Linked DNA regions of Homo sapiens. The protein of the gene in region 1 purifies or fractionates together with the protein of each later gene. This does not show direct contact. Each region holds a gene or a part of one and is shown on either strand. Other genes may lie near its edges.

Evidence for each region. The genes of interacting proteins can lie anywhere in the genome.
Region 2: the proteins of NEU4 (region 1) and GCA purify together in Homo sapiens (affinity purification with mass spectrometry; 2 studies listed by BioGRID and IntAct, with this or other methods). This does not show direct contact.
Region 3: the proteins of NEU4 (region 1) and GID4 purify together in Homo sapiens (affinity purification with mass spectrometry; 2 studies listed by BioGRID and IntAct, with this or other methods). This does not show direct contact.

The regions. Positions count from the first base shown.
Region 1 is NC_000002.12:241,812,192-241,815,058, reverse strand, and holds part of NEU4 (sialidase-4), read right to left. Parts: intron 1,727-2,867; exon of another isoform or gene 1,546-1,726; intron 581-1,545; coding exon of another isoform or gene 575-580; coding exon 374-574; intron 168-373; coding exon 1-167. UniProt on the Homo sapiens protein: Exo-alpha-sialidase that catalyzes the hydrolytic cleavage of the terminal sialic acid (N-acetylneuraminic acid, Neu5Ac) of a glycan moiety in the catabolism of glycolipids, glycoproteins and oligosacharides.
Region 2 is NC_000002.12:162,354,131-162,357,637, forward strand, and holds part of GCA (grancalcin), read left to right. Parts: intron 1-2,307; coding exon 2,308-2,351; intron 2,352-2,627; coding exon 2,628-2,775; intron 2,776-3,507. UniProt on the Homo sapiens protein: Calcium-binding protein that may play a role in the adhesion of neutrophils to fibronectin. May play a role in the formation of focal adhesions.
Region 3 is NC_000017.11:18,056,407-18,059,913, forward strand, and holds part of GID4 (glucose-induced degradation protein 4 homolog), read left to right. Parts: intron 1-296; coding exon of another isoform or gene 297-620; exon of another isoform or gene 621-1,065; intron 1,066-2,461; coding exon 2,462-2,563; intron 2,564-2,869; coding exon of another isoform or gene 2,870-2,893; exon of another isoform or gene 2,894-3,342; intron 3,343-3,507.

The DNA.
Region 1 (2,867 bases):
CGCGCGGCGTTCCTTCCCGTGGCGATCTGCACGGCCTCAGGCGTGTGGCCCAGCACCGCGATGAAGAAGAGGAAGACGGTGCCCGTGCCAGCATCGTGCACAGGGCAGGGGTTCATGGACCGGTGCTCCGCCAGGGCTGCTGTCCCCAGCACGTGCAGGGCACCCCACTGCCCAGAGGAGGAAGTTCCGCTGACCAGGACGTCCAGGGACCTGGGCACAGCCCCCCGCAGGGCACCCAGGATCGCTGAGCCTGGTTTGCTCATCTCTACCTCGGGCATCTGCCTGCCGCCGCCACCCCCGCCCCATCCCGGGGTGTGCAGCCCCAGCAGATCCGGCCACTACACCCACACAGAGCCCCCGGCCACTCACTCACCCGCACGGAGCCCCCGGCCAGCGTGCCCCTCCTCAGCACCAGGCGGTGGGCGTGGGAGTCGTCAGGGCTGAGCCGCTGCTCCACAAAGGCCAGCAGGGTGGGCCCGGGGGGCACGGGGAGCAGCGAGGGCACGCGGTAGGTCAGGCCCGTCCTCTCCCGCTCGAAGAGCACTGTCCGTGAAGGGGTACGAGGGACCCCCATGCTCTGCTGGTCAGTACAGGGCCACAGGTCAGCAAGACAGGCCCAGGGAGCCCCACACTCGCTCCCGGTCTGGACTGGGGAATGCGCTCAGGAGGTGCAGACAGCTCCTGCCCACACCTGGGCCTCTTCCTGTACCCACCTTGGGGTCAGCCCTGTTTCTGACTCCCTCACCCCAGATCTGGAGCAGCCCCTCCCCCACCCTCCCTCGCACCCACTCCACCCCAAATGTCTGTGGAATCAGCCCCTTCCCCTCTCAACACGGCTCTGGGAGCTGACCCTCGGCCAGGCTGGTTGGTGCCAGGGTGCAGGGGAGGCTGGCCAGAGAGCCCCCGGGACCCTGCCAGCCATGTGCCCAGGACACAGGGTCATCCCAGAATTCGCCCAGCAGGAGGTCATGTGGACAATGAGGACCCAAAACCTCGAGCAAGGAGGAGCTCAGTGTCCCCAGAATAGAGGCCACAGCACCGTGGAAGCCACAGCAGAGACACAAAGAGGTGAGCCCACAGGGACCTGTGGGAGCCACGGGGCTCTCTGGGGACAGGGGATCGGCTCCCACTTCCTGAACGTCATCGGGGGAGTCACGGGGCTCTCTGGGGACAGGGGATCGGCTCCCACTTCCTGAACGTCATCGGGGGAGTCACGGGGCTCTCTGGGGACAGGGGATCGGCTCCCACTTCCTGAACGTCATCGGGGGAGCCACAGCCAGGGATCCTGCAGGGGACAGGTGCTTGGTGATCAGACCCCTGCCTGCAGGCAGCTGGCCCCACAGTGCCCTCATTCCAGTGCCTGGTGCTTCCCACCTGCAGGGCCCTGACCTGAGAAGCGCCCACAGGAATCAGAAGCTCCAAAGCCGAGTGGGGCCCGGCGGCCATTCTGGGAGTTTGCTCCCAGGCAACACCCACCAGGGCAGGGCCCGGGTGAGGGGGCATTTGGGGCACGCATGGGGTCTGCTTGTTGCAGGCGGGACCTGCCTGGGGGGTCTCTCAGTCTGATCGCACAAAGGCAGACGGAGCCGAGCGTGAGCACGCACAGCCCGGCACAGGGAGGTGGCACAGCTGCAGACAGTGGGAACGCTGGTCCTCCACCATGCAGGAGCGGTCAGATCCACGGCCAGCCGCCCAGGCCGGGCACACGGGGCACCTGGATGCGGGGCTAAGGGAAGGAGGGAGGAGGGAGATGGCCGGATGCCGGACACCACGCCTGGCCAGGGCAGAACGCCTGCCTACGACGGGGACCCATGCACACCCACGGGTCAGGCGGGACCCACTGACAGAGACCCGGGTAAAGGCGCAACACTCGTGTAAAACCCAAGCAGGCCTTGCCCCGACACCTGAGGCCCAAACAGACAGCTCCACCTCCAGCCACCTCTGCCCTGGGCCACCGGTTCCTGAAAGGCTCTTGGCTAGGACAGCTGGCCGGCCCCTTCCTGCCGCTCCCCCACCACCAGTGCGCGGCTTCTGAGAGCAGCTTCCGTCCCCAAGAAGCCCCTGGCTCTGCTCTCAAAGGGCAATTGTGCCCAAGCGGGAAGCAGGTGCAGACGCCATGTGTCCCTCTGGGCTGAGCAGGCACAAGCAAGACATTCTCTCTGCACTTGGCTCCCTCCCCAAGGCCCGGACCACAGGAGCAGGTGTCAGCACCCCCTGCAGACATGAGGCCCAGGCCCACCCCTGGGGACAGAGAGGGAGAGGAGGAGACTCCAGAAACCAGCTGGTCACTCCCCTTGTTGCACAGAGGGGAAACTGAGGCCCACAGAGAGGACAAGGCTGACACACACTTGGCTTGGGGCTTCCTTGCCACGGCCAGGCCCTGGGTTCCACAGAGCCTCCGTGTCCTCCATGTGGCCAGGCCCTGGGTTCCACAGAGACTCTGTGTCCTCAGGAGGTCCCTCTGTCTTGGGGGACCAGCCGTGCTCAGTGTGGCCAGGCCCTGGGTTCCACAGAGCCTCCGTGTCCTCAGTGTGACCAGTTCCCTGGGTTCCACAGAGCCTCCGTGTCCTCGGCAGGCCCCTCTGTCTCGGAGGCCAGCCCCGCTCAGTGTAGCCAGTTCAGCACATTCCAGGGGTTTGGCTTGACTGGGACAGCCATGTCCTGGACATTAACCAGTGCCCCCCGCCCTCCCTGACAGGGCCCTCCTTGGGGGTGTGGAGTCACAGAAGGGGAAACCGAGGCCCAGGGGAGATGGGACCTCCAGGAGAACCTGGCCTTCTGGTCCGTGGACCCCTGGACCGGTTGTAGGGGTCACTCTGGCTCAGCAGGGGGCCATCACAGACCACCCCCCCCACCCCCGCCAACCC
Region 2 (3,507 bases), about 79 Mb from region 1:
TGTCTTTCATGTTAGGTGCTTTTCTCAGTTATCTGATGATACTGCTTTGCTCTTATTTTAACTAAATTGCTGATTAGAAGCCCTGAGATCATGGTTAGGCATTGATTGTGGGCTTCACTGTATGGTGATTTGGCTGGGCAGTTTTGTCTTGGAACTCTGGGTGTCAGTATCTTTAGGGATTCCCTTTTGGACTGGGTTTTCAGTTGACCTTCTGCCTGGAAAGGAGAGGTGGACTCAGAAGGGTTCTCAAATCTTTTGTAAATTGTCCTTTAATTGCCTTGCTTTTAGAAGATAGCCCTGTCTCAGCTCTGGTATCTTACATTTCAGAGACTCCTCCAGAGAATAAAATTCCAGATTTCTGCTGGGTTGGAAGTAGGTGTAGCATCCATCCAACTGAACCGAGGCAGGGAGGGGATATGAGGCTTAGAATGCTCCTTAGGTAGACATTCAGCCAATTCTTCTGTTTTTATCTCCACTTTCACACCCACTTTCAGAAGTACTGCCAATTCTTTGGCATTTGGGGTCTTCTCCAAGGGTTGCTTCTCAGCTTTTCTCATTACAAGTTCAGGAATCCATTTTCTCAGATCTAGGTTGGTTAACTCACATCCATCAGCTCTTCAACTTGCAAAATTTTGTTACTTTGTTTCCTGTCTAATTCTCTTTTTCTCTAAAGTTTTATGCCTTAAATCAGTTTACTCTCCATTCTAATGGGCTATGGGGAGGAAGTGAAAAATCTGTCAACTTTCCTGAAAAGTCTGTCTCTCCACTCTTTGTCCTAAATATTTCTTCTTATACATACACATTCCTATTCTGAGATTGAAGATCTGCTCATTTGCTGATTCAGTTTTAGCGATCTATTATCATTAATTCGGATTCTCCCACTTTATGAATGTGTGCCAAGTTAATTGTAAAGCAAAATAGATATTATTTACTTGCCCAAAAGAGGAAATACCATTCCAGAAATTTCTCATGTAATCCCCTCACTCTGACAGTTGTATAGCCTTAGCTTTGTAAACGTGGGGAACTGCCTTTCTGGGTCCCAGTTTCTTCCTTTTTTACAATTGGAACTATTATACGTTTAGCATGTTTATGTGAAATCATGTAACACACGCCACCTTACTCATGCTAAGAACACATTGAGTATCTATTGAGTTGTCAATTTGAAAATACTACAACCAACAATTCTAACATTGATACTATATTAAACATTTAAAGAAAATCAGCAATTTTAACTCTTGGAATGTCTTATAATTTTTTCTTTAGTGGGTCTAAAATTTAGCTGAAATAATTTTCTGCTTTTATAAAATGTTAAGATGTTATGGATAAAATAATTTTGAAAATTTTCATTCATTCATATTAACAAGCTGCTATTAAGCACTTTGTAAATTTAAACTGTACTAACGTGATGTTTTCTTTATCAGGGCATGAAATTAGTCTTGAGATATGTCAGCATACAAATTGAATGTAATTGGATTAGAAAAATTAGAAAAGGATTAGAAAAATTGAATTTTATCAATAGGTCATCAGTTGTAGTTCTATAAATATGAAAGTGTTAATATTTCAAATCACCCCTGGTTTTAAGATAGCTTGTATTGATTTTTTCTTCCTTTTTTCTCCCCCCAACCCCCGAGAAAAACCAGTTGCTTCAATTCAGATGCTCATTTTTTCTTACTTGGTCTATTACAATAAATTACCAATGGACTTACCTATTTCCAATATCATCTCACTTTATATTTTATTCATTGTAAACTAAGTTTCTAAAATGGAAATTTTAGAATTTCCCTTCTGCTTCTGAAAACACTTCAGTGGCTTTTCATTGGCCCAAACTTTTTGGGGGTAGTATTCAAAAGTTTCATGATTTGGCCCTCATTTGCCTTTCTGATGTCATCATATGTCACTCTCTCCCATATACTTTAATGCAAGTTTTGTGATCTCTGAGTACATGTCAAACTTCTACTTTAACTCCACTTGTCATTTGTGTTATGAAGACTGGAAGCCTTCCTTTTCCCCAGGCTTGGGTGAAGCCAAGTGCTTTACATACCTGGAATGTCTTTGTCACAGTAATTTTCAGTTAGTTTGTAATTGCTCATTTAATTAACTTAGTCCCCTCACTAGATGTGAGTACTTTGAAGGCAGTAATTTTTTTTAAACAATGGGTGCTTAACATTCAATAATAGCTTGTTGATTGTGGTGATTTTATATATTTTGGCAGTTTTTTAATGTTTTATTTTGAAACTGGAGATTGTCATAATTTTACATAGATAAAGTTGGGCATACTCTAATTTAAATATTGAATATGTTTTACAGCCTTCAGTTTGGAAACCTGCAGAATTATGATTGCCATGTTGGATGTATCCTTGAATAGAAATAGAAAATACTAGAATAAAGAGTAATTGCTTTCTGACTATCAAGCCAGTGGTTAGATTTCAGTGCCTGTAGTAAACTAGTGAATTTAAAAATACTTTGTAAGATCCTGTTTAAATTCTAGGCTTTCTAGTTTTTATGCAGAAGTCTGTTCATATAATGAGTTTGGCTAAGTCTACAGAAGCATACTCATGTTTTAGTCAATGATTTAGAGTCAGATAAACTCAGGTATCAGAATTTATTTTTGTTAATAAAACTATCAGAGAGATCACACAGGAAAAATGGGATTTAATGCATTCAAAGAGCTATGGGCAGCTCTTAATGCCTGGAAGGAAAACTTCATGACTGTTGATCAAGATGGAAGTGGCACAGTAGAACATCATGAGTTGCGTCAAGCCATTGGTCTTATGGGTAAGAACATTAACATTCTTTAGAATCTATAAAGCTAATCTTTGTTCTTTGATTAGATGAACTTAATTGCTTCAATTTACTAACTAATAAAGGGATGTATTTTTTTGCCAGCAAGTTCCTTTGTTTGTTTTCAAGGTTGTAGGTAAATTCTGACCAAAGACCTCAACAAAACCATTTTAATTATGATTTTTTTCAAAAGATGATCTTCCATACATGCATACATTCTGAATTTCTTCTGTTGTGTTTAAATTTATTTCTTTGTTAGTACTTACCAGTTAGATTGTATTCTTTTATAACTTGGCAGGATATCTAATTGGGAGCCAAAGCTTGCCTCAGTCAGTCAAAAGTCTGTACAAAATAGGTTTTCAGTGGTAGAAACCATGTTTTTGTCTTTTTTTTCTTAGATAGTGCAGAACACATAGCAGGTGCCAAAATACATCAGGATGGAAAGGTTGCATTTTAGAGTAATTTAGAAGTATATAACTTTATTCTTATACCTCTGATAAGCTGATGTTCCTAGTGTACTTTTAAAATGGATAACATACAATGGTGTTTAATTTGCTTAAACTTAATGCAGTTTTAAGTAGCTTTATGAATTGTTCTTATGCTTGTGATTTACACTCTTCTAAACAAAATCTATTTGTATGAAAATTAATTTTTTGGAAGTTAAAATCTGAACCCAATGGAAGTGGGCTTATCTCAAATTGCAATTTAAATAAGTCAAATTAGTGA
Region 3 (3,507 bases), on another chromosome or scaffold:
GAGTTGGAAGGGCTCCCTAGTACCATCTGCGCCCACCCCTGCCCAGGGCTAGGCTCTTCCTGCATGGCTTGCTGCCTCACGAGATGGCTCCTTCCTCTCCTGTACAGTCCCAGAGTAGAAGGTTCTTCCTTGTAGTAAACCACAGCCTCTCTCCCATTCAACTCTATTTTCCATTTCATATTGGTCCTGCAAAAAGCAAAGTCTTTGAGGCCCAGTGACACTCAGTTTTAGGCTAGGTTGACTACAAATTAAATACTTGGAAAGCAACTCTTAATTTTCCCATTGACTTCCGTTAGAACATTGGAAGATATCTGGATCTGCAGACTCTGCTAGACTGGACTGAAACATTTTGGGTGAGAGAGGAACTAAGAAGGCCACCCTTGGTACTGGCATGTGAGGTGTGGTTGAGCCAGGGAGCTGAACCTATGGAGTGCTTCCTCCTCCAACAGTTTGTGGCTGCTTTTGTAGTACTCAGCATTTCCCCTAACTTTCACCACTCATGGAGGACTCCCAGGTTCCCACGTGGGACTCCTGGAGCTCTGTACTGCACCTGGGTTTGTCTGAGATTTACAATGTCTAATACACTTCACCTAGGCTGTCATTTTTTCATTATAAACTAGAATCAGAGATATTGTATTGCATCCTCAGATTTTCCTGAGTGGTATTTAAGTTGCTATTATAGTGGTACTATAAAGTCAGGATTCCATATATTCAGTCTACATAGGATAAAAATGTCTATGTGACACCAGGTGTGGTGGCTCATGCCTGTAATGCCAGCACTTTGGGAGGCCGAGGCAGATGGATCACCTGAGGTCAGGAGTTCGAGAACAGCCTGGCCAACATGGTGAAACCCCATCTCTACCAAAAATATAAAAATTAACCAGGCATGGTGGCACACACCTGTAATCCCAGCTATTCGGGAGGCTGAGGCAGGAGAGTCACTTGAACCTGGGAGGCGGAGATTGCAGTGAGCTGAGATCATGCCATTGCACTCCAGCCTGAGCAACAAGAGCAAGACTTTGTCTCAAAAAATAATAATAAAATAAATCTATGTGACAAAATCTATGACTTAATATCTCTGTGTCTTGATTTTTTATTTAAGATGTTTTCTTATCAAATTAACACATGCTTGTTTAAAAATATTTGAAAAAATAGAAAAGCTGGAGGAAAAGGAGTCATCTATGGCAACACCTAAAACTAAAATAGCTGTTAACCTCTTCCTGAATCTCTTTTGGGTATACAGTGTATACTTGTTTTTTGTCTTTTTTTTAAAAAATGGGATCATAAAATACAGTTTTGTAACCTATTCCTAATCTCCTGTTGTAAATGTAGTCAGCCCTCCATATATGTGGGTTCTGTATCTGTGGATTCAACCAGCCACAGTTTGAAAATATTTGAAAAAAAAAATTGCATCTGTACTGATGATGTATAGATTTTTTTTTTTTGAGACAGAGTCTCGCTCTGTTGCCCATGCTGGAGTGCAGTGGCACGATCTCGGCTCATTGCAAGCTCCGCCTCCCGGGTTCACGCCATTCTCCTCCTCAGCCTCCCAAGTAGCTGGGACTACAGGCGACCACCACCACACCCAACTAATTTTTTCATATTTTTAGTAGAGACAGGGTTTCATCGTGTTAGCCAGGATGGTCTTGATCTCCTGACCTTGTGATCTGCCTGCCTTGGCCTCCCCAAGTGCTGGGATTACAGGCGTGAGCCCCCACACCCAGTGGATGTATAGATTTTTTGTTCTTGATATTTTTCCCTGAACGATACAGTATAACCACTATTCACTTAGTATTTACATTGAATTAGGTATTATAAGCAATCTAGAGATGCTATAAAGTATAGGGGAGGATGTGTGTAGGTTATCTGCAAATACTGCACTGTTTTATATCTGGGACTTAAGCATCTGCAGATTTTGGTATTCATGGGGGTCCTGGAACCAATCTCTCGCAGATATCGAAGGACAAGGCTATCATGTGTTTCTAGTGTCTGCTTAGCTAGCTGGCCCAAGCCCCTAGATCATGCAGAGACACAAGCTTCACAAAGCCCTCTTCTCTGAGACTGGGCAGGCTGTTTCTAAGCTGTTTTGCATGGCTCTTTTTGCTACTTCGGATTTACTTGCAGAGGTCTTCTCATTAATTTTTCTTAGCTTTCGTCTGTTTATTTTGTCTGTCTGTTCACCATTCCCATCCTTTGGCCTTTTCCTCAGCCATGTTAACAAGGCAGGTGTAGGGCAGTGGGGCCCCAGCTGGAGTCCAGGTATCTGCCCCAGGGTTGAGTCTGCATTCAATGGGGTGACCATAGGGCCCCATCTGTTACTTGGTCTTAGCTGCCCTTTTGGGAGCCACGTCCCTAGCTGTCATGCCTTGGGAAGGTGAGTTTACCTGGGCACATAAGCATAGTTCTGAGAGCAGCCTCTCCTTCTCTCAGTCAATCGGCACACTCTCTTTTCTGCTTTCAGGGCAAGTTTCTGGCTTTTTATCAGTATGCAAAATCATTTAACTCAGATGACTTTGATTATGAAGAGCTGAAGAATGGAGACTACGTCTTCATGAGGTGGAAGGTAAGTTCCCACCAGGTGGCCCTCCAGACTCCCAGCAAGCCAGGCCCTGTATCGCACCTACATATTCACTCTAACCAAGGGCTCCCCATGTCCAGTGCTCGTCACAGCTGGTTGTCATGGCAAAGTCTTCATGGCAGGGTCTTTGCACGCCTATAAAAAGTGGGCCCAGCTCCAGGGCACGCACTGGTTAACTGCCGATGTCCCAGACAGCTCCTCCTCGCTGTGCTTTTGGTGGGTAGCAAGTGGATTTGGGCCTAGGTGGCTGCCTCTAACATTGTCTTCTCCCTTTCCTTTCTCCCACCCAAGAATCTTGTTGAACCCCCAAGTTGAATCACTCCAAGTGTTCTGTGGATTCAAGGCAGAGCCAAACTTGCTTTGAACTTAGTCATCAGTTGTACCCAGATCCCTCTACAGGCTTAAACACCATCCGTGGGCCAGGTGCCCTCCACCACATCCTTTTCCCAGAGCTCAGGAAAGTCTCACCTCCTCTACTTCCCTCCAGCTCAGGAAATGAGGGACCGGGAATGGAACACGGGTTTTTGACTCAGCAGACCTCAGAGAGCCCCACCTGACTGACTTGATGGATTGGCTTTTAGCTGCGAGGTCATTTGTGCTCCCTGCTTTGATAACGTGATATTTACAGCCCCAGAATAGCAAAATCAGGAAGCCAGTTTGTTAAATAACTTTGAGAACATACCAACCCCTAGTCCCCAGTCTGCAGGGAAAAAGTCGTTTTATCTTGAAATCTTGTCAGCTTTCATAAAGATGAATCATATTGAGTTGCCTTTCCTGGTCTTTATTTTGCATAGCTAACCACTTTAGGAAGTGGGGATCGGCCGGGCGTGGTGGATCACACCTGTAATCCCAGCACTTTGGGAGGCTGAAGCAGGCAGATCATGAGGTCAAGAGATTGAGACCATCCTGGCCAACATGGTGAAAACCCA